5 separate regions of the Homo sapiens genome follow, and regions 1, 2, 4 and 5 are each linked to region 3. Evidence: fine-mapped expression QTL. A gene starts in region 3. Each other region holds a variant in brackets. All regions are shown on one strand. Distances are between the middles of the regions.

The links. PIP is the estimated chance that this variant, and not a neighbour inherited with it, causes the effect. A credible set is the group of variants that fine-mapping cannot tell apart.
Region 1: its variant is the best candidate, but not a certain one, in a credible set for the expression of SPPL3 in whole blood (INTERVAL, PIP 0.72).
Region 2: its variant is the best candidate, but not a certain one, in a credible set for the expression of SPPL3 in whole blood (TOPMed, PIP 0.89).
Region 4: its variant is the best candidate, but not a certain one, in a credible set for the expression of SPPL3 in blood mononuclear cells (TOPMed, PIP 0.55).
Region 5: its variant is the best candidate, but not a certain one, in a credible set for the expression of SPPL3 in spleen (GTEx, PIP 0.56).

What each region holds. Positions count from the first base shown.
Region 1 is chr12:120,790,841-120,795,943 of GRCh38, forward strand. SPPL3 (signal peptide peptidase like 3) reads right to left here. Exons shown (of 11, transcript NM_139015.5): 3 at 629-717. Among named protein-coding and RNA genes, the nearest start is that of ACADS, 68 kb to the left of the region's middle. The variant G/A (reference allele first, on the strand shown) is at 3,147.
Region 2 is chr12:120,744,932-120,750,034 of GRCh38, forward strand. No RefSeq gene overlaps it. Among named protein-coding and RNA genes, the nearest start is that of ACADS, 22 kb to the left of the region's middle. RefSeq lists a silencer at 2,774-2,989. The variant C/G (reference allele first, on the strand shown) is at 2,411.
Region 3 is chr12:120,901,392-120,906,494 of GRCh38, forward strand. It overlaps SPPL3 (signal peptide peptidase like 3), which reads right to left and starts at 2,967. Exons shown (of 11, transcript NM_139015.5): 1 at 2,454-2,967. The coding sequence starts at 2,476. XLOC_009911 (a long non-coding RNA gene) reads left to right here and starts at 3,304. Exons shown (of 2, transcript NR_131215.1): 1 at 3,304-3,381. RefSeq lists silencers at 2,317-2,366, 2,507-2,726, 2,807-3,166.
Region 4 is chr12:120,797,765-120,802,867 of GRCh38, forward strand. The region is part of intron 2 of SPPL3 (signal peptide peptidase like 3); the gene reads right to left. Among named protein-coding and RNA genes, the nearest start is that of ACADS, 74 kb to the left of the region's middle. The variant G/C (reference allele first, on the strand shown) is at 2,637.
Region 5 is chr12:120,757,598-120,762,688 of GRCh38, forward strand. It overlaps SPPL3 (signal peptide peptidase like 3), which reads right to left. Exons shown (of 11, transcript NM_139015.5): 11 at 4,913-5,091. Among named protein-coding and RNA genes, the nearest start is that of ACADS, 34 kb to the left of the region's middle. The variant G/A (reference allele first, on the strand shown) is at 2,899.

The DNA of each region.
Region 1 (5,103 bases), 110 kb before region 3:
AGACGGAGTTTCGCTCTTGTTGCCCAGGCTGGAGTGCAATGGCACGATCTCGGCTCACTGCAGCCTCTGCCTCCTGGGTTCAAGCGATTCTCCTGCCTCAGCCTCAGTAGTAGCTGGAATTAGAGGCATGCGCCACCACACCTGGCTGATTTTGTATTTTTAGTAGATAGGGTTTCTCCATGTTGGTCAAGCTGATCTTGAACTCCCAACCTCAAGTGATCTGCCTACCTTGGCCTCCCAAAGTGCTGGAATTACAGGTGGGAGACACTGCGCCTGGATATCTTGGCACTTTTTAAAGAACATCTTGGCAAAAATTTCTCTTGTACTTTTGCATCTTTCAAAAGATCTAACAGAATGTTGAGTACATGGCAGATCTCAATATAAATGTATTAATATTATCAAATCAAGTCACTTCAAATTCAAATCTTTCTATAAGCATCAAACATTTTTATTAACGTTATTGAGGTACAATTACATACCGTAAAATTCACTCATTTTAAGTATAATTCAATGTTTTTTTATACCAATCATAAATCCTTGAACCCAGTAAATTATTAACTGGAGGTATAGAAACAGCCAAATTAAGAAAACTATATGTACAGAAGTTAATTGACATAAAATATCTTACTATTATTGGTGCTGTTGCCATTGAAAGACCCAGAAGAACTATTACTGTCTTTCTCCTTATCTTGATTTTCAAAGTCCATATTAAGGGACCTGTGGAAAAAAATTTTGTAGTTAAGTTGTAGTTTTGCTTACAAAAGAAGGTCAGAAAAGTCATATGACAATATTTTTAAATGCCAAGGAATTAGGAAAGAAGGTCTCTTTTGAACAACTCTGAAAAATAGCTCTTGTAACATTTTAAAAAACAATCTTCAGTCCTTCCAATGTGTCAGTTCAAGAGTTTTCCTGACTGCAGATGAAAGCATCCCAATGCAGCTGAATCTTCCACTCCTATCTCTGAGCATATCATATCCTTAATTACTTCCTTATGATAAAAGCCTAGAAGGAGAAATGTCAAAGGGCAAGCACATTTTGAGACTTTTACATACCACACAACTGTTCGCAAAAAGGCTGCATCAGTTCACTCTCTCAGCAGTGTATGAGAGCACTCATTTCCCTATACCCTGTCAGCTGTGATTCAACAACAAAAAAAATTTGAGTGTCTTCTATATCTGGAACTGTTCTAGGTACTACAGGGACAATAAATAGCAAACACAAGACTGGATTTTATATTCAAGGGGGGAGATGTAATAGACCAGAAAAATAAGTTCAATACATAGCGTGTTCATGGCAGGTGCTAAGGAGGAAAACTAGGAAATGCAGGGGTTAGGGTTTGAAATTTTAGACAGGATGAACAGGAAGGCCTCACTGACAGTGACTTCAGAGTCAAGACCTGAAGGAAGTAGTCACTGTCTATCTGGGGAACTAAAAATGGCACGTCACTTTGATTTAGAATTCTTTAACCAGTGAATAATGTTGTGTACAAAAGCTTGCTCATTTCTTTCTTTTTTTTTGTGAAGTATCTGTCCAAGTTCTTAGCTAATTTTCTGCTAGTGTTTTCCTGTAAAGAAGGTGTTTGTGGGTGCAGTGGCTCACGCCTGTAATCCCAGCACTTTGGGAGCCCCAGGCGGGCAGATCACGAGGTCAGAAGATCGAGACCATCCTGGCCAACATGGTGAAACCCCGTTTCTACTAAAAATACAAAAATTTGCTGGGCGTGGTGGTGCGTGCCGGTAGTTCCAGCTACTTGGGAGGCTGAGGCAGGATAATTGCTTGACCCCAGGAGGCAGAGGTTGCAGTGAGCCAAGATTGCGCCACTGCACTCCGGCCTGGCAACAGAGTGAGACTGTCTCAAAAAAAAAAAAAAAAAAAAAAAGTTGTTTTTTTGCAAAAGAACTTTCTGTTATGATGGTCTTTATCTGCACTGACAAGTGCTGTGGACATCAGCCACATCATGTGATCACTGAAATGTGGCTGGTAGGACAGAGGAACTGACTTCTAAAACTATACAGCTTTTAGATAAAAACACATGGTAAATCTCTGTGACCTTGGATTTGGAGTAGATTCTTAGATATGATGCTAAAAAACAGAGAAAAACTTAAAAAACTTACGTGCCTCAAAGGACACTAACCAAAAAGTCAAAAGACAACCCATAGGATGGGAGAAAATCTTTGCAAATCATGTATCTGATAAGGGACTTGTGTCTAGGATATATAAAGAACTCTTACACCTCAATAATAAAAAAGACAACCTGATTTTAAAATGAACAAAGGATCTGAAGAGACATTTCTTCAAAGAAGATACACAAATAGCCAATGAGCCCATGAAAAGATGTTCAACACCGTTAGTCATCAGGGAAATACAAGTCAAAACCATGAGAAACTGGCTGGAAGCGGTGGCTCACGCCTGGAATCCCAGCACTTTGAGAGGCTGAGGCAAGAGGCTCACTTGAGACCCATGTGGGCAACACAGTGAGACCCTGTCTCTATAAAAAATAAAAGAATTAGCTGGGTGTGGTGGCATGTGCCTACAGTTTCAGCTACTCGCCAGGCTGAGGTAGGAGATCACTTGAGCCCAGGAGGTCAAGGCTGATGGCACCACTGCACTCCAGCCTGAGCAACAAAGTGAGACACTGTCTCCTCAAAACAAAACCACCACCATGAGAAACCACTTCACACATAGCAGGATGGCTATAATAAAAAAGTCAGATAACTAAGTGTTGGCAAGGACACAAGGATGTAAAACTGGAACCTTCATACACTACTAGTGGGAATGTGAACTGGTGCAGACACTTTGGAAAACAGAATCTAACCATGTTGACACCCTGACCTGAGAATTCCAATCTCCAGAACTCTGAAAAAATAAATTTGCTGTTTAAGCCACCCAGTCTATGGGTATTTCATGGCAGCCTGGGCTAATGCAGATCAGATTTCATACCTGAATCCTTTTAAATGTATTGAGATTTGTTTCATGTCCCCATATATGGTCTGCATTAGTAAATATTCCACATACACTTGAGAAAGAGCGTGTGTTCTGTTGTTGGATGGAACATTCTATAAATGTCAATTAGGTCAAATTGATTAAGAGTATTGTTGAAATCCACTGTATCTTCACTGATTTTCTGCCTAATTATTCTATTATTG[G/A]GAGTGGTACTGAAATCTTCAGCTATATTTGTGAATTTATTTCTCCTTGCAGTTCTCTCAGTTTTTGCTTCATGTATTTTGAAGATCTTTTATTAGATACATAAACATTTGTGATTGTTATGCTCTCTTGCTTAATTGACCCCTTTGTCATTACAAAATAACCTTCTTGTCTGTGGTAGTATTCTTTACTCTGAAAGCTGCTTTGTCTTATATTAATACAGCCATTCCAGCTTTCTGTAGATGAGTATAAGCAGCATATCTTTTCCTAACCTTTTACTTTTAACTATTTTTTTTTTAATCCTAACCACTAGACAACAGGGATTAACCTTTTTTGGCTTTATAGTGTGCTTCTTGTAAGCAGCATATATTTGGGTCTTGCTTTTTTATTCAATTTCACAATTGCTGTTTTATTTTTATTTTTATTTTTTTGAGACAGAGTCTCAATCTGTCACCCAGGCTGGAGTGCAGCAGTGTAGTCTTGGCTTACTGCAACCTCTGCCTCCCAGGTTCAAGCAATTCTCCTGCCTCAGCCTCCCGAGTAGCTGGGACTACAGGCGCATGCCACCACACCCTGCTAATTTTTGTATTTTTAGTAGAGACGGGGTTTCACTATGTTGGCCAGGCTGGTCTCGAACTCCTGACCTCATGATCCGCCTGCCCTGACCTCCCAAAGTGCTGGGATTAGAGGCGTGAGACACTGCACCTGGACAACTGCTGTTTTAAAGAGGTGTGTAGACCAATTTCATTGAATGTGATCAGTGATACAATTAAGTTTGAGCCTATCATCTTACTATTTGTTTCCTACTTGTCCTATTTTATTTCCCCTTAACCTGACTTTGTTTGGATTAATATAGCATTTTTTATGATCCAATTTGATCTCCTTTGTTGTCCTATGAGCTATAACTCTTTGCTCTTTAATTTTAGTGGCTGCTGTAGGGTCTATAGTATACATCTTTAACACAGTCTACCTTCCAGTTATATTGTAACATTCATGTATAGTATAAACTCCTTACAATAGTTTATATTTATTTCCCTCCCTCAACCTTTGTGCTACTGTGGCCATGCATTTAACTCTTACATGTTATCTTATAAACCTCACAATATATAATGTTTGTTTATGTTGTCAATTATCATTCATTCTTTCATTCATCTTGCTATGTTGCCCAGGCTGGTCTCAAACATCTGGGCTTGAGCAATCAATCCTTCTGCTTCAACCTGCCAAGTAGCTGGGATTACAGGTACACACCACTGTGCCCAGCTCCAGTCAATTATCTTTTACACAACTGTAAATAGAAAAAAACTTTTATCGATGGATGTTCATTTCTGGTGATCTTAACTCCCTTGTGTAAATACAGATTTAAGGCTGGTACCATTTTCATTCTGCTCAAAAGACTTCCTTTAACATTTTTTAGTGTAAGACAGCTGGTGATGAGATGAATTCTTTCCGGTAGTGTATGGTATGTCAAAAACATCTTTACTTTGCCTTCATTTTTAAAAGATATTTTTGCTGTAGAATCTTACAGTGACAGTTTTTTTCTTCCTGTACTTTAAAGCTACCGTTACATTGACTTTTCACTTGTATTTTCAAATCTGACATCACCCTCATCTTTTCTCCTCTGTACCTAACATGCTTTTTTGCCCCCTCTGGCAGCCTTGGGGATTTTCTTTTACCACTCATTTTGAGCTACTGATTATGTGTCTTGGTGTAGTTTTCTTCATGTTTTTTGTGCTTATAATCTGCAGTTTTGAATCTGCAGATTATAGTTATCAAATTTAGAAAAAACTTGGCCATTATTTCTTCATGTATTATTCTGTCCCTCCCTTTCTTCTCCTCTTTCAGGGACTCCATTACCCATACAGTAGGCCACTGGAGGTTTCTCTCTAATGTTCAATGATAGCTCCATTATGATCTTTTCATGTTTAAAAAAATTATTCTTTTCTGTACTTCATTTTGGAT
Region 2 (5,103 bases), 160 kb before region 3:
AATTATTGTGTATCAGGTTAAAAAAAAAAAAGGCTCTTATGTGTAGCAGAAGGGCAGACATGGTGCAGGCAGGCCAGAGACCTAACAGGAATTTGCAGAGCTCCAGAGCCTGAAGACTCAGCCCCGGCAGATTGCTTAGGCCAAGGGCAGGGGCGTGGGAAGGAAAACCTGGCATCCGGAAAACGGAGCCATCTGAACGGATGCCCCTGATGCTGCTCTCCAGCCCAAACTCTCCAGGGTGCAGAGGGTGGCTGCCTCTCCATAGGAAGGTGAGGGCTTCTGCTACTGGAAGAGTCTGCGGAAGCCGCTCCCAACAAGGCCACAGGTGCCCCTCTGCAGCGGCCCTCACCTCCTCTCCTGGCTGCCGGGCCCATGACTGCGGTCGAAGCCCAGTGTCACCCAGCTGGGGACAGGCTGGAGCTGATGAGAAAGCGACGCTACACTGGTATTGGTTTTCTACTCTAGCAACACATCACTACACGCTTAGTGGCTTGAAGAAATACCCATCTTAAAGGGCCAGGCACAGCAGCTCAGCCCTGTAATCTCAGCTCTTCGGGAGGCCGAGGTGGGAGGATGGCTTGAGCCCAGGAGTTCAAGAGCAGCCTGGGCAACACAGGGAGAGCCCATCTCTACAAAAAATAAAAAATAAATTAGCTGGACGCAGTGCCGCATATCTAGAGTCCTAGCTACACAGGAGGCCAAGGAGGGAAGATCACCTGAGGCCAGGGATGCAAGACCAGCCTAGGCAACATAGTGAGACCCTGTCTCTACAAAAAAAAAAAAATTAGCCAGGCTCAGTGATGCATGCCTGTACTCCCAGCTACTTGGGAGGTTAAATTAGGAGGATCACATGAACCCAGGAGTTCGAGGCTACAGCGAGCTGAGATTACACCACTGCACTCCAGCCTGGGCAGCAGAGCAAGGCCCTGTCAAAAAACCAAAAAAAAAAAAAAACCAAAAAAACAAACCCATCTCATAGTTTTCATGGTTCAGGAGTCTGGGCGTGGCTTAGCTGGATGCTCTGTCCAGGGTCTCACAAACTGAAAGCAAGGGACTGCAGTCTCATCTGAAACTCCGTTCCCTTCCACGCTCACGTGAGCATTAGCAACATAGCAAGGCCCCATCTTAAAAAAAAAAAGATAAACATATAAATACTAAAAGAGTCCGAGGAAGTGAGACGGGCGAGTCAGGGGACTCATGTTTTTGGTACGAGATTTTAATACAATTTGATTTTTGTGTATTTTATATTTAATACACAAAATGAAAACATGGCATACCAAAACCTATCATACTCAGCCGGGCGCGGTGGCTCACGCCTGTAATTCCAGCACTTTGAGAGGCTGAGGTGGGAGGATCACGAGGTCAAGAGATTGAGACCAGCCTGGCCAACATGGTGAAACCTCATCTCTACTAAAAATACAAAAATTAGCTGGGCATGGTGGCATGCACCTGTAGTCCCAGCTACTCAGGAGGCTGAGGCAGGAGAGTCGCTTGCACCAGGGAGGCAGAGGTTGCAGTGAGCCGAGATAGTGCCACTGTACTCCAGCCTGGGCGACAGAGCAAGACTCCGTCTCAAAAAACAAAACAAACAAAAAAAAAAACTATCATACTCATGCTGATGAAATTTAAAATCTACATAAATGATTTATCTTCCAGGAAAACAAATACACAGAATTGATTCTAGAGAAGGCAGAAAAAACAAACAAACACAAAAAACAGACCAGTAAGACTAGAACAAATTGAAAAGGAGTTAAACATTTGTCCCCACAAAAGGCATCTCCTAACAGAGTCAGTGGAAATGTAACTCAACTGGAATTGCCTCTCAGAGCAGGCGGAAGGGTAAATTGGTACAATTATTGAGGAGAAATGCTGTATTCCAACAATGAGCATACATACAACTATAAAAAAGAATGAACTACTGACCATAAATTGCTAACATGGCTGAATCTTACAAATGTAACATTAAGCAAAAAAGGTTAGGCTCAAAGCTGGGCACAGTGGCGTGCACCTATAACCCTGGCTACTTGGAGGCTGAGGTAGGAGGATTGCTTGAGGATGCTCCAGCAGTTGGAGACCAACCTGGGAAACATAAGGAGACCCCCATCTCAAAACAAGCAAACAAAGTTAAATTTAAAAAAAGGTAGGCCAGACATGGTGGCTCACGCCTGTAATCCCAGCACTTTGGGAGTCCGAGGCAGGCGGGTCATGAGGTTAGGAGATCAAGACCATCCTGGCTAACAGAGTGAAACCCTGTCTCTACTAAAAATAACAAAAATTAGCTGGGCGTGGTGGCGTATGTCTGTAATCCCAGCTACTCAGGAGGCTGAGTCAGGAGAATCGCTTGAACCCGGGAGGCGGAGGTTGCAGTGAGCCGAGATTGCACCACTGTACTCCAGCCTGGGGGACAGAG[C/G]GAGACTCTGTCTCAAAAAAGTTTATAGTCAAGACTTCATAATGTATTCACTGTATTACATGAATTTCAAATGCAAGCAAAACTAATCTGTGGTGACTGAAATTAGAACAGTGGTTACCTTGGGGGCCACTGACAAGAGGCACAAGAGAAGCTTGCTGGGTGCTGGAAAGGTTTTATATTCTGATCCGAGTGGTGGTGGTTCAGGTATAGTCATGTGGAAAGAGTCACGAAGGCTGTACACTTAAAATAGGTGGACATTAATGCTTCCAGCTCAGTATTTTTTTTTTTAATAAAAAAAAAAAAACACGGTATCTGGCCCAGATGGCTCTATTGAGAGTTCTAAAAGAGGCAAGAGGAAAGGCCAAGGGTTTCCACAGTCTGCGTTTCTGTTGTGAGCAGGCCTGGCTTACTCAGTCTTTGCTGCTCTCTGGGAGTGCCTGGAGCTATGGCACTGACCTGGGACAAGCTGAGAAGGAAACTCTTGGAAGGTGCATGTAGTTACTGATGAATGTTAATCTGTAGGCCTGGTGCACTGGGGCAGGATGAGCAGCCTGTCAGATGTCAGAATGTTTAACATCAAGATTTAGGATGTGCGGCCGGGCGCGGTGGCTCACGCCTGTAATCCCAGCACTTTCGGAGGCCGAGGCGGGCGGATCACAAGATCAGGAGATCGAGACCATCCTGGCTAACACGGTGAAACCCCCGTCTCTACTAAAAACAAAAACAAAAAATTAGGTGGGTGTGGTGGCGGGCGCCTGTAGTCCCAGCTACTCGGGGCCGGGGGTGGGAGGCTGAGGCAGGAGAATGGCGTGAACCCAGGAGGCGGAGCTTGCAGTGAGCCAAGATCGTGCCACTGCACTCCAGCCTGGGGGACAGAGACAGACTCTGTCTCAAAAAAAAAAAAAAAAAAAAAAAACTTAGGATGTGCGTCTGGCCTCTGTTTTGGAGTGCTGTGTTTTGGTTACCATGGCTGGTCATGTGGCAGGAAAGTGCCTATGTGACCATCTTCTTAGAACAACAGGTTTTGAGACCTGGGTGTTTCCCTGGGCAGAGACATCTCACATCTCTGTGGTTCACACCTGGAAAGAAACACACCGTGCAGCCTGCTCTCGGCCTCCCTGGACTTTGTCTATGTGTATCTTTCTCTCTGGTCCCGTGGTGTATCCTTCGCTTAGTCAACCTTAGCTGTGATATAACCTCATCAGGTCATGTGAATCCTTCTAGTTAATAACTGAAGTAGGAAGGGGTCCCGATTCATCCGCCATAGCCCCCAGCTCTGCCTCACTCAGGTCTGCTGTGCTCCCCTCTACATTTGCTCACAACCGCCTTCTCTCCCTAGAATTTTCTTCTGATCTTTAGTTCCCTGAATCAATATGCTTTCCTTTAATCTCTATAGCACTCAGGCTTTGGCTAAGGCAGGAAGCCAACAACCTATATGCTAGTTCACCACCTTGGGGCAAACCAGAAGTCACCCACTATTAAAAAAAATTGTTTATTGCTGACATATTTCGTTTTTATTTCTGTTTATCTGGTTATGTTGAAGAACTTCGTTAGTTCTTTCAATAGATTATCCACTCAGGCCGGGCATGGTGACTCACACCTGTAATCCCAGCACTTTGGGAGGCCCAGGTGGGTAGATTACCTGAGGTCAGGAGTTCGAGACCAGCCTGGCCAACATGGTGAAACCCTGACTCTACTAAAAATACAAAAATTATCCGGGCGTGGTGGTGCACGCCTGTAATCCCAGCTACTTGGGAGGCTGAGGCTGGAGAATCGCTTGAACCCGGAAGGCGGAGGCGGAGGGTGCAGTGGAATGGTATGGTGCCGCTGCACTCCAGCCTGGGCGACAGAGCAAGACTCTGTCTCAAAAAAAAAAAAAAAAAAGCCTTTTTTTACACTCCTCGATACCAAGGCTCTCTGGTGCTCACACTTAGCCGTGAACTGCTTGTTCACAGTTCTCAGTTTCTCACTTGCTGCAGATAGAGCATCAGGACGATTGAGCAGTGAGCAGCCACCTCGGCACTTTCCCTGGCATTGTCCCACCTCCACCCTGGATAGCCTTCAAATTCTGCATCATCACAGCTGCCACAGCATTCCCTCCTCCAGGACATTCCCAGGTCACCACTGATCAGATCTTTAGCAATGGAGCCACCACGCTGGGCTGGGATCTATTTATGCCACCTACTGACCAGAACACCAGAACACCTTGATGTGGGTCATTTTTCATTCATTTAGCTGGGCACGTGGTGGGTCTTTCCATCTAGAGATCCATGTTTTTTTCCTCCATGTTCTTTAATTCTTGGAACTATTACATTATTTCTTTGATAATTTTATTCACTTTTTTTTTTTTTTGAGACAGGGTCTTGCTCTGTTGTCCGCACTGGAGTGCAGTGGTACAATTATGGCTCACTGTAGCCTCAGGCTCCTGGGCCCAAGCAATCCTCCCACCTCAGCCTCCCGAGTAGCTGGGATTACAGGCATTTGCCACCAGACCTGGCTAATTTTTTTTTATTTTTAGTAGAAACAGAGTATTGCTATGTTGCCAGGCTGGTCGCAAACTCCTGGGCTCAAGTGATCCTCCCATCTTGGCCTCCCAAAGTGCTGGGATTATGGGTGTGAGCCACTGTACCCAGCTTGATTCACTCTTTTTTTTTGGTTTGCTTTCTAAATTCCTAGAAGTCTGATGTTGTACT
Region 3 (5,103 bases):
ACCAGCCTGGCCAACATGGTGAAACCCCATCTCTACTAAAAATACAAAAAAAAGCCGGGCATGGTGGCATGTGGCTGTAGTCCCAGCTACTCGGGAGGCTGAGGCATAAGAATTGCTTGCACCCGGGAAGCGGAGGCTGCAGTGAGCCGAGATGGCGCCACTGCACTGCAGCCTGGGTGACAGAGCGAGACTCCGTCCTAAAAAAAAAAAAAAAAAAAAAGGAAACTGCCCACTTTCCCCAGTCTCCCCTTATATGCCACCCTCTCTCCAGATAATGTAAAAATTTTCTTCATCTCAAAACCTGCCAAAGGTTGAGGGGCTAAGCTCCCCGATTTCAAGGAGTTTCTTTGCCTGTAAAGCAAACAGAGCTGACATTGAAGGAAGTATTTTAGTAGAATAAATTTGTAAATTGTCAAACTTCACAAAGTAATCCCTCCTTAATAGAGCCAACTAATGTCAGAGAGAGGTCGTGTGTGTCCAACCTACCTAGTAAAACATTTTCATTTTCCCCATTTCTTGACCACTGAGTTTTCTATTCTTTCAACCATCCAGGGCCTCTGTACAGCACAGTAAAAACAGCAAAGCAGCCATTAGGACTCTCAGGGCCACAGCCATTAGGGCCAGAGTATGAGAAGCTCAAGATGAGTAACCACAAGGCATGACAGAAACACCTTTACCTTCATTTCTTACTCTGTCCAGAAGGAAGCTGAAATTGTAATCTTGTGTTCCCTACGACCTGCTACTGAAAGGCAGCTGTCACGCAAAACTATGAAATTAGCTTAAACCTCTTTTTAGAGCACGTGTTCACCAAGATTTTAATTCTTCCTTTAGGGTTACTTTGTCTCTCAGTTACCTTCTTCTTGAGATTGCACATACATCAATGAAGTTCTCTTAAGAATTATCATCTTCAATCCCCAACTCCCTTTCTCTTATGTGAAGACTCAATGAGTTACTGACTTATAACCTCTAACACTATAAATAATCCACTCAAAGTCTTCTACCTAAAACCATTCCTTATTTTCTGATATTACCCATTTCTTAGATGTTTCTCTAGGATAATTATAATTAATGTAGTAAGATCTGTGGCACTTCACAGTTTGCCAAGTGCTTTCTAAATGTACTCACTTAATCCTTACAGGCTGTGGAAAAGGTAATTCCCTCTATTTTATAGGTAAGGAAAAAGGACCGAAGAACTCACTACCATGTCGTATCAACAAAGCAAGTTGGTGGCAAACCGGACCTCCGAAATAGGTCTTCCAACTCCACACGGCATGCTCGTCCCATTCTATTATGCTCTTTTCTAAGAAGGGAATGTCTACAGTTCTGTCCCAAACCACATTTGCTTCAAGAGTAAACCATCTTCAAACCATTTCTCTAAATTGCAATCAGGTCCCCCACTCCTACGATCATGCCATTTCTTGCTTCCTCACTCTCCAGCTATGACTTCCTTCTCACTACCCGATTTCCACTCTTCATGGATACTGCCATCATTCCTTCAACCCGTCCTGCAAATATCCCACCTCTACATGCTAAAGGGAGACCCCTCATGTTCCTTCCCCCAAACCCTGGCACTCCCTTCTCCGGATATGTAGGTTGTCACCCCATAAACTACACAGTAGCTTCTCGCTTCTCGGCCCTTAACGAGCTACTTACTAACTTTAAAAGCCCCACAGAAATGAACTTAACTTGCAGGTCCTCCACCTCCACACTTGGCCCTGGGCGCCATTCCTCTGAAAATAATAGTACCAACCCTTACAAAGACTCTGCCCATGCCCCACTGTCACCAACGAATTCCTTTTCCAGAAGGAAAAGGAAACAGGTTCTTCAGGCTCCTCTTCCAACCTCTTCACCAGTGACTCCCCTCCAAGGTTCGTGGACTCTACCCCCGCAGTTTTCCTCCCCTCACTCCCGGGCCTCTGCCCACCTCACCAACTCTCCCTGCGCTCCCTGTCCCAGAGCCAAGCGGCGGCCGCTCCACTCTCCCAACTTAGAAGTTCTGCCTCTATCACCTGTTCTCACTAGAGCTTCCTCTCAGCCCAGCGGCCCACCTTTGCCCTGGCCTGCCTCTCTCCACCCCTTCGAGTCCTCCTGCCCAGGAAACACCCCCACGAGTCAGTTCCGGGGTGCCTGTCGGATTCAACTTCCCATCCGTGGGATTCCCACCCCCGGGGTCATGCTCCCCTTCTCCATCACCTGCTCCGCCCATAGCCAGATGACATCCGCCGCTGCCTCCTCCTCCATTCCCCTTCTCGGACGCCAGGTCCCCGGCCACTCACCGCCCTCCGTGCGCGCCAGCCGCCCCCTCCGGTGGGGAAGAGGGGGGCGTGCACCCCAACCCGCGCCCCCCCCCCACGACACGCACCTGTTCTTCCTCCTCTTCCCCTCGGCGGGCCGCGCCGGCGCCCCGACCCCCACCCTTGCCGCCTCCCGGCCTCCCGGAGCCCCGCACTCACCACGAGTAGGTCTGCTCCGCCATGGCGCTGCCTCTCGTGGGCTCCGCTGCAGGCTGTGGCCGGGCCCGGCGGCGGCGGGCTCGCTCGGGCCGTAGCTGAAGGCGCGGCCGGGGTCCGGTGCTTGCTTGCTTGCTCGCTCGCTGGCTCGCTGGCTGCACGGCGGGCCGGGAAGGCGGCTGGCGGGGAGAGGCCGGGCTCCGAAGCGGCCCCGCTCCCTGGGCCCCGGGGCGGGGCGGGCTCCGCTCTCGGCCTCCCTCACCCGCGGCGGCGGCGGCGGCTCCGCTGCAGCTCCAAACCCAACATGGCGGCGGCGGCGGCGCGGAGAACAAGGGGGCCCTGGGGCGGGCGAACGGCAAGACGGGCCCGCGCTCACTGCGCGCGGGGCCGCGGGAGCGCCGCGCTCGGGCGGCGGCGGCGGCGGCCGGGGGACATGGCCGGCGGGCGGAGGCGGCGGCGACTGAGGGGGGCGCTAGGCGATGAGGCGAGGCCACTCGATCACACCCGCCGAGGGGAGGAGGGGCGGGGGCGGGGGCGAGCCTTGGCCCCGCGCGGGTCACGTGCCCAAAACACGCTCACGTGATGCGCGCCCCGCCCCTCGAGCCGGGCCCATGCGCAGAGACGTCGGCTCCTGGGTTCTAGGCGGCTGCTGCTCGCACAGCCAGAGCAGTTGGGCCGCCTCCCGCTGCCTGGTGCCGCCCCCCTCCCCACGCGGAGATGTCGCCTCGGGTACCCTCTTCCGCCCCTCTCCGAGGGGCTGCTGCACCAGCCAATCGGGAACCCCGATGCGCGTCTGTTGGCTGCCACTCAGCTGTCAACCGTCAGTCAACAGTCTGCTGGCCACGGGCCCCCCAACTGTCAGTCAACCTGTCAGTCAACAGGCAGAGGGCTGCATTCCTTCGTTCGTATGTTCCTTGGTTCATTCATTCAGGTAGCAAATATTCCAGGCAGCCAACCTTTATTGCGCCCAGGCCCGGCACCAAGTCGAATACCCCACGCTTGCCTTCACAGAATCAATCAACAGATATTTGTTGGGTGCCAACCATGTGTCAACTCACTCTGCCTTCCTAGAGCTTACATTCTAAAGGAAGAGACATAGTCCAAGCCCACAAATAAGATAATTTCAGATGCTGCTAAGTTTTACAAAAACACATTTTGTAACACAAGGTGAGGGGACAGAGAGTGAGCAGAGGTGTGGGTTACTTTAGATAGGGTGGTCAAGGAAGGCCTCGCTTAGGAGGTGACATTTGAGCTGATATTGAATGATGACAGAGAGCTGGCCTTGCAAAGATCCACAGGAAAAGAGTTCCTGGCAGAGGGAACAGCAAGGGCAGAAGGCTCAGGAAACCGTCCATTTGGAGGTCTGGAAACCGGCACAGAAATAAACACGGTAGAGCTAGACCAGAGACCAACAAAGTGAATCTGGAGCTTAGATGGAGAGAGAAGAGAGAGATTAATTGAGGCCCCAGGTACTGCGGAATGCTTCCCCAGGAGTGGATGAGGCCGTCTGAAAGGGTGAGAGGCTTATCAAAGAAAAGTCATTCTTTTGGCCGGGCGCGGTGGCTCACGCCTGTAGTCCCAGCACTTTGGGAGGCCGAGGTGGGTGGATCATGAGGTCAGGAGATCGGGACCATCCTGGTTAACACGGTGAAACCCTGTCTCTACTAAAAATACAAAAAATTAGCCGGGCGTGGTGGTGGACGCCTGTAATCCCAGCTACTCAGGAGGTTGAGGCAGGAGAATGGCGTGAACCCCGGAGGCAGAGCTTGCAGTGAGCCGAGATTGCGCCACTGCACTCCAGCCTGGGCAACAGCGAGACTCTGTCTCAAAAAAAAAAAAAGAAAAAGAAAAAGAAAAAGAAAAAAAAAAAAGAAAAGGCATTCTAGAAAGAAAGAATGGCATGAAGTAAGGCCCAATTCCTGGTGAGCTTGAATCCGAGAGTGGGATGGGTGATTTGTGCTGGAGTGTTGAGAAAATATACTGAGAAGGTGCACTGAGGCCAGACTTTGAGGGCCCAGCTAAGCCTCCTTGCCAGTTACTGTGTTCATGAATAAAAATGATTAACCAGTGCAGCTTCAGAATTTAGAAACATGCCTGGGCAACAGATACACTAACCCTCCTGGACACCCCTCCACCCCCACCCTTCACCCCCCTGTTTCTCTGCAGAAGGCAAAACTCACACACCTGAAACCAACGTACTCAAGCTTCTCTGCAGCTTGCCCAACTTTAGGCCAGAATTTAGCTCTGCTCCAGTTTCCCAGGGCCTGCCCAGGCTTACAGGGAACACCACACCCTGAATCTATCTCCAAATGGATCAGTTGGCCATTGCCCATACATCTGCCGCTTGCCTGTTCCCCAAGGGAAACCCTTTAAAGAGAAAGCCAAGTACACTTTCCCTTCAGAAGCAAAGCTCTCCTTCCTTATTCCCCCACTGCCAGGTGCCAGGACCAGTTAGGTTCCAAGTGTTTCCTCCAAAGCTCTATCAGAGAGCCCTGGGAAAAGGCTCACTGATGAGATTGAGGTCCAGGCCGGGCGCGATGGCTCACGCCTGTAATCCCAGCACTTTGGGAGGCCAAGGCAGGTGGATCATGAGGTCAAGAGGTCGTGACTATCCTGGCCAACATGGTGAAACCCCATCTCTACTAAAAATACA
Region 4 (5,103 bases), 100 kb before region 3:
GAAGAAACTTAACCAAATGACTGGGCTCAGGTCACACTGATAATGATCTTAACTTCGTAGTTTCCCACCTCTATGACTCAAAATTTCTTACTGGATTTGAAAGACTTGCCCCTCTACTAACAGCCTGACTCTAGCTGCCACTCTTGTTTCCTGTACTTTCATTCACTAAAACTCCCTTCTCTGTTACTGGTACCAAGGAAGCCTCAATTAGAATGGGGGGTCTGGGGAGGATAATCTATGAAGTAGAGACTGGTTAGTTACATGTCACCCTGTTCTCATATAAATCTGGCCAACGAACTGTTTAGCAAACTGTTCCACTGGAGGGCAGCCCCAGTGGGTGACAGCTCCCCAGCAGGACCAAAACACAGCGACTTTTAGATGTGGTGGACTCCCTGAAACATGGTTAAGACTCCTCTTCTGAAATATGGTCAGGTGTCTGATGTGTTGGCTTTCCTGGGGGTTTTTTTATTTTAAAAAAGCCTTGGATTTTAGAAGATTCATATACAGTATTTGAGACATATTTCTCCAGCCATCAGAGGAAGACACATTAGCAGAGATTAAAACGTACACTTACTGCTCATACCTCAGTCACACTTAGAGGAATAGCTATGGCAACTGGCTCCTGAAAAACTTTTTCCTAATTAGTTCCACAACAAACTAGATGTAGTATTTTGCATATATTTCCCCTGCCAACGCACCTGTGGTAGTTTCTAGTACATGGTTTCACTTCTATGATCTTTTAAGCTTTAATTCATGTTTTCGCACAGCAGAGCTAACAATGTGCAGGACCTAAACTCTAGGGTTGGTGATGCATTTAATGGGAACGTCTCTGGAGTCAATGGAACATGAAGACTGCTCCTTCCCTGTGGGCATGTTTTGGAAACACATATATTAATTTAAATTGAGTTTTTCAAATTCACTTATGAATGGAATAACAATAACTACACTTGTTATATTCTGCTTCTCAGAATCTGGTGACAGCAGGTTAAATGTGCAGGAATTTTTATCTACATCTCTACCCTTGGGGCTACACAGATTGCCAGCTTCTCTTACTTTTTCTGTTGGCATTATATCGCTATTCTGGATTGGAAGGTTGCCAGTCATCTCTTTGGTTTAACCCTAGGCACAGCTGCTACGGAGCCTCTCCCATGAGACTGGGTTAGTGAGAATAGGTGCTGAGAACCCCCCGCGGGACAGGATGAAGGGTTATATAACTCAATTTCAATTTGTTATTAGTTGAGAACTATTTATAACTCCATCCTGGATGTTTTAAGGCAAGATTTTCCCCTTTTTTCAAATACAGCTGCTCCTTGACTTACAATGGAGTTATATCCCAATAAGCCCAGGTAAGTGGAAAAATCTCAAGTTCAAAATGCGTTTAATATTCATACATCTAACCTACTGAACATCATAGTTTAGCCCAGCCTACCTTAAACGTGCTCAGAACACGTACATTAGCCTACAGTTGGGCAAAATCATCTAACACAAAGGCCTGTTTTGTAATAAAGTGCTGAATATTTCAAGTAACTTACTGAATACTGTACTGAGAGTGAAAAACAGAATGGTTGTATGGGTACTTGAAGTATGCTTTCTACTGAAATCATACTGCCTTTGTACCATCATGAAGTGGAAAAATCTTAAGTTGAACCATCATTAAGTCAAACCGTTGGTAAGCTAGGGATCTTCTGTAGCAGAAAGTAGTGGTCAACTTCAAACCAGTTTTAGCTGGTCCATTTTCTTAGCATCTAACTGACAAGAACTGCAGCAGGGACAGGAAAGCCTTAGGCAGGAATGAGGTACTATCAGATGGTGGGGGAGGGTGGAGGACTGGTAAGGAGAGCAAGCATTCTTCTAGTTCTCTGTGTAATTAGAAGACTTTGAACTTCTCACTGCCTCAAACAAGCTTAGCTAAAATCAAGCCTTGTTTGGTTGTTAGAAGCAGACCATGGGTCACCGCTGCACAAAACAGAAATGGGGCACAGTGAGTTAGTAGGGCCTTACCTATTAGCTCAAGCTGGGAAGATTCATATCTTCCAGCTTTATACAACAAGCTTAAAGGGCCTGGGCTTAGCAGATCCCATGCCACTATGACTGGGGTCCGGTAAAGTTACTCACACTGCACAGCTGACAGCAAACTTAAGCTGTTTAAATAAAGCCTTTGCAAAAGACTCTGCCTCCAAAGCTATCCAGGACTATTTTCAATTATAGGCCTTTAACTTAGCTTATTTGGTAATTTATTAAGTGCATAGACATCAGATTGCTAGGTTGGACCTAGAACAGTTCGCTGCATCTTCACAGAAGACTACTCTTCATTCTCTTCCATCTTGACCTGCCTTCACAATCTTGTTATTGCTATACAGTAACATAATATGATGTTAATATAACGTTATAAATATACATTCCATCCAAATTGTATCCTGGCTATTTGCAAGTCTAGGTACTGAAATCAATGTTTAGGTCAGGTGCGGTGGTTCATGCTTGTAATCCTAGCACTTCAGGAGGCTGAGGCTGGTGGATCACCTGAGGTTAGAAGTTCGAGACCAGCCTGGACAACATGGTGAAACCCCGTCTCTACTAAAAATACAAAAGCTAGCTGGGCCTGGTGGCGCACACCTGTAATCCCAGCTACTCAGGGG[G/C]CTGAGGTAAGAAAACTGCTTGAACCCGGGAGGTGGAGGTTGCAGTGAACTGAGATCACACCACTTCACTCCACCCTGGGCAAAAGAATGAAACTCAGTCTCAAAACAAAAAAACAAAAAACAAAACAAGAAAAAGAAATCAATGTTTAAATGATCAACAGAAGGACTTGAGCTATGGCTTTTTCATCACAGACAACCATTTACCATCACAGAAAAAAAATCCATCTAAATTATAGCATATTATATGCTATTTTTTTTTGTCTTTTCATCAACTATGACTGAACAGGAAGTAGTTATGGGTCAAGGTGTAGGAGGTCAACAAATGTCCAATTATTGATACTTACATAGAACCTACACTAAGAAAGAAAGACTAAGAACCTGGGCAGGAAGAAACAGTCTCTGACTCAGCAGCTGAGAACATCCAGGGGGTTAAAATGATGATAATAGTTAAGCTTGATTGAGCTCATACTGTCAGGCACTGCTAGGTGCTTTACAGGCAAGGTTTCTTTTGATTCACAGAAAAACTCCATGAGTGGGGTGACCACAAATTCCAGCTTATGCCTGCTGCCTTGGCAAAATTATGAAGGAAACAAAAATATTTCACCCAAAAATATACTTCTCTGACATATTTCAGATGGTTTTCAGAAGGGCTGGAAATACAAGAATAGCTGAGAGAAGCTGTGTGGGGCAGATTTGCATCTGTAGAGAAAATATGCATTGATGAGGTGGAGGCATTTCTCTGAGGCCCTACCTTGTCCAGACACAGGAAAGATTAATTGAGAGTCTGACACCTTAGAAGGTCAGAAAGAAACATATTCCATCTATTCTCTCTCAGGGCTGCGACCTGTGAGGTTTCATCTACATGACAGGACCACCTGTGCTAGCTGGGCCTCCTCTTCTCTCTCTCTCATAATCTGTCTCACCACCATAACCTGATTTACCACCATAACCTGTCTTGCCACACTCCAAGCCCTCATTCTTTCTGTAACCTCAAGGTGGTATAAAAGCATCAGCCATCTGGCCATTTTTTTTTTTTGAGATCTTATATTTTGTAAGACTTTTGTGCACATTAACAAATCTGTATGCCTTTTCTATTAATCTGCTATTTGTCAGTGGATTTTTCAGCGAGGATTCAGGGGGCACAGAGGAAGTTTTCCCTTGGCCCTGTTACACCAAGTAATGGGCTCACTGCTTGACGCGCTACATCTTTCCACATTAGTATATACTGCTTTTTTCTCATAAAAACAAACAAACAAAAAAACCTACAGAGTATTTCTCCCCAAGTAAACTTGATCTGGTATCATTTTTAGATAAGCTGCACATGAGCTGTCTTACTACAGAGAAATATTAAGACCAGCAGGCTTTATAGGTGAATGATATGGTTTAGCCTTGAACTGGGTAAGGTCCAGATGGCCACTGACCCTGTCAGCTAATTAGTGTCAGTTAGAATGACAACTCATCAACATTCTTCAACTTTAAATTGGGTGTAAGTATAAATTCCAGTTTGGTGTTTTGGTCACTTTGATGTACATTTCACATGAAGTTTATTACAGACACTATATCAAGAAGTATATTAATATTCTGTGAGTGCCTTAATAAGATTTTAGTGTGGCTGAGGTAGAGATCTGGTTATATTTGCCCTAAATTTGTTTCAGGCTAGAATTAATTCAGTTGCAAGGAACAGAACTTTAGGAAATCAACTACTCATTTCTTTATGTCCTAGAGTGGATTAAAAAGGATTTTCTGAGGAAGATTCTAGGCCTGCCTTTAGGAACTTCCACTGCCTGCCTCAGGACAAGGGGAAACATGGGCTTATATTTAGGTATTAGGTTCCTTCATTCTGATAAAAATACGAATGCACCATGAGTGCTGTTAAGACAACTAGGTCTGTATTTAGCTGGCAACATAATACATTTTTGGGCTGCTGCTTTTATATATGTATGTATGTATGTATGTGTGTATATATATACATATATATGTATATATATACACATATATGTGTGTGTGTGTGTGTGTATATATATATATATATTTTTTTTTTTTTTCCTTTTTGAGATGGAGTCTCAGTTTGTGGCCCAGGCTGGAGTGCAGTGGCGCAATCTCGGCTCACTGCAACCTCTGCCTCCCAGTTCAAGCGATTCTCCTGCCTCAGCCTCCTGAGTAGCTGGGATTACAGGCATGCATCAACACGCCTGGCTAATTTTTGTATTTTGAGTAGAGATGGAGTTTCACCATGTTGGCCAGGCTGGTCTTGGAACTCCTGACCTCACGTGATCCTCCCACCTTGGCCTCTGAACATGCTGGGATTACAAGCGTGAGCCACCGTGCCTGGTCTGCTACCAATATTTATTAACAGATCAACATTCAAGAATAACCAGTTTAAGAATTAACAGCCCATTCATTCTCCAGATATTCCAAAATATAACCTTAGACCACACTTAGCAGTAAGATGGTTATCTAAACAACA
Region 5 (5,091 bases), 140 kb before region 3:
CAGGCAGACGCTGTTGCAAGAATCTTTATTTGCTACAGGCAGTGGATGGATTTAAATGTATTTGGAACTAAGAGTAGGATTTAAATGTATTTGGAACTAAGAGTAGGCCCTAGAGCCATCAGTGTTTATGCCTTACCTGTATTTTCTGGGGTGGAGATCATTTCTAATCCTGGGATGAGGATGGAATATAATGATTAGGGACAGTGTTTAGAGCTTATTCTGCCACTTAGCAATTTGTGATCTTGGGGTCTTGGCGAGTTCCTTTGTGACAATGGTGACAGTAATGGCACCTGCCTTTATTAAAGGGCTCTTGGGAGGCATGACTGACACCCGGTGTGTGGCCATCATTGGCTGGGGCTCTCTCCAGCAGATCTCCCCAGATCTGCTTTGACACCCCAGGCCTCTGAGCTTTCTTTAGGTCATGAGTATGTCCCTTCTCCTTGCTTCACGTTCTCCTCAAATGAAGCCTGGCAACTGTGTCCCTGGCCAAATGATCAAGAGGGATGTGGGACAGGACAGGGCTGAGGACGAAGCCCGGGCCCATCCCTTCAAGGTAGCATCAGCTCCTTCATCAGCGACTTTTGGGGAGGGTCATGGGTCATCCCACCAGTTATTGATCTGCTTCATCAGACGGTGCCTCAGCCCTGATTGCTTCACTGTGTCCTGGAGGACTGAGAATTTTCCAAATGCGTGGCTGGAATCTCCTCTTTCACTCTCTCTAGTCTGGCTACTGTCCCTCTCCTATTCAGTGGACTGACCTGAGCCAAGTGGCTTAGAATGACACTGTGTTTTATTTTAACACAGGATAGGAGTTTGGCCCATGAGTCTTTTTTTTTGAGAAGGAGTCTCGCTCTGTCACCCAGGCTGGAGTGCAGTGGTGCGATCTCGGCTCACTGCAACCTTCACCTCCCAGGTTCAAGCGATTCTCCTGCCTCAGCCTCCCGAGTAGCTGGGACTACAGCCATATGCCAGCACACCCGGCTAATTTTGTATTTTTAGTAGAGACGGGATTTCTCCATGTTGGTCAGGCTGGTCTCGAACTCCCGACCTCAGGTGATCCACCCACCTCGGCCTCCCAAAGTGTTGGGATTACAGGCGTGAGCCACCGAGCCCGGCCCTGGCCCATGAGTCTTTTGTTCCAAGGGTGTTCAAGAAAAACCTAGATGTATCAACTAATACAGGCCCACAAAAGACTGACAGAATGGGAGCTTCACAGTGTAGTAAACTTTTCCCTCAAAACAAGCAGTAAGACTTTAAAGTACACTGAAGTTAAAGAGGGCACATGCAGTGTTTATTATGGAAAAAAAAAGTACAGAAAAATAAAAACGTCAACACTGGTTTGTGTGCAGAATCTGGGTAGAGGTTGATCTTCTTGGCCTTAAGAAGCCAAAATGAGGAACTGCATGGGCAGGGTCACCCACCATCCCCCTCTGCATATGGAGCTTTGTGCTAAGGCTTTCAGTGTGTAGAAGAAAATTTCAAGACCCTGGATGGGGGAAATCACCCCTCAGCAGAGGGGAGAGAACCAGTATTCCTAATGATGAACCGGGAGCTGTGGTGGTTTGAATAATGACAGCGTACAGATCTAATGATTTTAACTGTATTCCAACTCTCTGAGCATTGTGTGTGAAATATATGAGAACACAGTAAACCAGAAGAGCGCCTCATATTTACTCAATACTTTCTATGAGGCACCTTCATCCCCATTTCAGATGAAGCAGCTCGGACTCAGGGGGCTCCATCCCTAACCAGAGCCCCATGGTGGCTGTGTGGGGGATGCGCATGACAAATGCCTTCACACTCAGAGCACCACAGAGCAGTCTTCCTCCTGCCTCTCACTGTCCAGGTCATCTCGCATACTCTGCAAGGCTTTACATCACTGAAGACTTTTTTTTTTTTTGGCTTTAGCTGCTCTATTGGCTAGAACAACTCTTCTTCCCCAATTTCTTCTGTTATCTATTTTGGCAATTCATTGTTCAGGTTAAGAAGTGTGGAGTCACTGTGGAGTCCCCAACCCTGCATCCAATCTGGTAGCAAGTTCTGTTCTTCGCATCACCCTAGTCCAGGCCATGGCCTCTCTCACAGCGACTGCCCCGGGCAGAACGCCTACACTCAACAGGGGAGGGCTGCGGGAAGTGCCAGGAGGCACAAGCGAAGGAGGAAAGGTGGGGCCGGGGCTCCTGGCCAGATGGTGGTCTTGGGGAGGGTGGCACTGCATTCTACCCGCCGTCAAGCCGGCAAGGCCACGACTCATCCGTGCGATGCTTCGTCATCTTAGTTCCTCCCTGCACTAGCAAGCGCTCAGCCTCTTTCTCTGAAATTGGTTTCCGCCTTCCCCAGGGAGCTGTCACAGGATATGTTACTATCTGCCTGGGGATAAAAACCCCATCAAGGCACGACAGCAACCGCAGGTGTGAGGAAATTCAATCTCTAATGGCAAAGGCTCAAACACAAAAGCTAGAAGCTCACGTGGTGGCTACACTCCAGCAGCTCCAGGTGGGCAGAGTGAAAGGTGGCAGTAGCAGGCTGACAGGTGGTCCGCCTGGAGAGAGGCTCTCTGGTGAGACAGAGCAACTGGTGTCGGGATCCCGGGGCTGGATCGCTTGTCTTCAGACATTTGGTTGAATGCAGTGACCATCGTGCTGTCCCCCTCCGTCTCTGTCCTGTGGACACCCACTTCCTGTCTCCCATTCCTCACAAGCGCAGGCCTGCTGCCCACTGCCTGGCGGCTTCCCCACTCCCAGTCTCTCAAGTCTTGCTTCCTCTGCCTAACTGGTTCCCATTCCTGTCATCTTTGGATCTGGTGAGAATCCCAGGACTCCATGGGGGCTGGAGACAGCTCGTGGGCTTAGCTATTTTGGAACCTTCAGAGCCTCTGTTCGCCTGCAGACAGGTGGC[G/A]TGTTTTACAGGTTCTACTCAACAGGAAGAAGATGTCTTGGAACTTAAGAGAAAAACTGGTTAGGCAGACTCCAAATGAAAGGAACCAGAAGCGAAGCGGAGTCTGCCGCATGAATTCTTAAGACCTCAGGTTATCTAGGAAATCTACCGCACGCTAAAGTGCTCCTCCGTAAGTGCTGCAGTTAGAATCTTCACAGCCTCCCTGCAGGATGTTTGTATCAAGCACCTGCTAACCACTGGCTCCGTGCGGTAAGACTTCTGAAACCTGTAGTGACGAAAGATCATTGCGCTTGGGGCTGTAGGCTTTCGCTTGTCTTCAGACATTTGGTTGAATGCAGGCCTGTGTCCACCAGGAGCACTGGGCTTCTCCTACACCAACTTGCTTCTCAGCCTTCTCTTCATTGGCACATCCCGTCCAGTGATACAGGATCCCCAGCCCAAGCCTCTGCTATTTACAGCAAGGCCCAGAGTTACGGAGAGAAGGCTGTGGATTCTACTCTTGAACGCACTGTGGCATCCCTGCGTGACCTTGTGTGGGAATGGCTGCCACACCCCCTCCCCACAAGCCAAGCATGCTAAAGCAAGCCCTGCACAGACCGCAGGAGTAGGGGGTCAGGATGTCTGGTTTTGTTCACTGGGGGGCCCAGTGCCTCAAGCTTCACTGAAACATGACTGATTGCCTCTAACGGACAGGAAAGGGCTCTGGATTTCAAGGGAAAGGCTGAGGAGGAAACAGATGATGGCTGGAGCGGGAAGAATTTTGTGATGGGAGAGTCTCTGCGCATGAGACAGTTGGAATCTGAACCTGCAGAAATTTGAGTTTAGAGTTTTGCAGATAGAAAGCACCCTATACATTGCAGGGAATAGGAATAATTTCTGGATTAAAAAGTCTTACCTGGTTTATCCCTTCCAATAAGAGGAAGAAGCTTGAGTTGGATGACTCGATCTGCAGTGCTTCAGCTGACACGTGTTAGCAGCCATTGTCCTAGAAATGATTTCACTGTTGGAAACTGCTGAAGAAATGTGATTCGGTGAAGTGGGGGAGGCTGTCCTGGCCACTGTGCACTGAAGACCAGAAAGAGACCGAGATGGCTTCCTTCTGAGCCTGTACCGCTGACATAGCTCTGTAGAGAAGGGGGTTGTATAAATGATGTCCCTAAGGCATGTACTCCCATGTATAGACACGAGTGCTGCATTCCCAGGCTCTGACGTAAACGCTAGGCTTTACAAAACAGAAACGTACACACAACATGGGATCTGGTGAGCAGTAACGTGAGAGCTGCTAAGCAGACACAGCAGGTTCTATTTTTAACACTTGATTGGCAAAATGGAACTCCCTTCCCCTCCACCCTCACAGAGAACGAGTACTTTTGTTTTTCTTGTGGGTGACCTAACTTACCTGTTTACCCAAGGCCTGTGAGCCTGCTACAAAAGTAATTCAGACAGTAGCTTAGTCCCAAGCCACCGAACCGTTCCTATGCGGGGAGCTGTCACTGTCACATTCAGAAAGCGTATGCACTGTAATAACAGCAATGGAACACACTAGGCTTTGGACAGACTTTACTGTCATATCTTCATTAGCTCAAACTAGAAAAAAGAGTTATTAAAAAGCGGGAGTTCTAGTAACACACAGTCTCTTTGTGAGGAAAAAGGACTTCAGATCAGTGAGGAAGGAATCTGCTGAAATTTCATGAGCATGCCATGCCTAATGCAGCAGACTTCCTAGAAAACCCCTAAACCATGGTATTTGAGAAAACAGAATAAGAGGCGGACCTAAGTGTATCAGGCAGCGGGGAGCAAACGAGCACTGGAAGGGAAGTCTAATGTGTGCTTTAACTGCAGCCACCCACTCAACCCTCCGAGACGAGTAGAGTATTTGCTGTTTCTCTGCCAAAGTTTTAAGGGAGTGTTTTAAGGGCTTTGAAGATTAGCAACTGGAATCCAGGGTGCATTCACAGCCCTGTGTGGGTATTTCCCCCCAAAACCTGCACAGAAGTGAGAATGACAAAATAACGACGTTCCTTCTGTCTGGAATTTAATTTTCTTATGAAAACAAAGACAGAAAAATTAAAATGACCCACTGCCAGGATAACATTTCCTTTTTTTTTTTTTTTTTGAGATGGAGTCTCACCCTGTCGCCCAGACTTGAGTGCAGTGGCGCAATCTCTGCTCACTGCAACCTCCGCCTTCCAG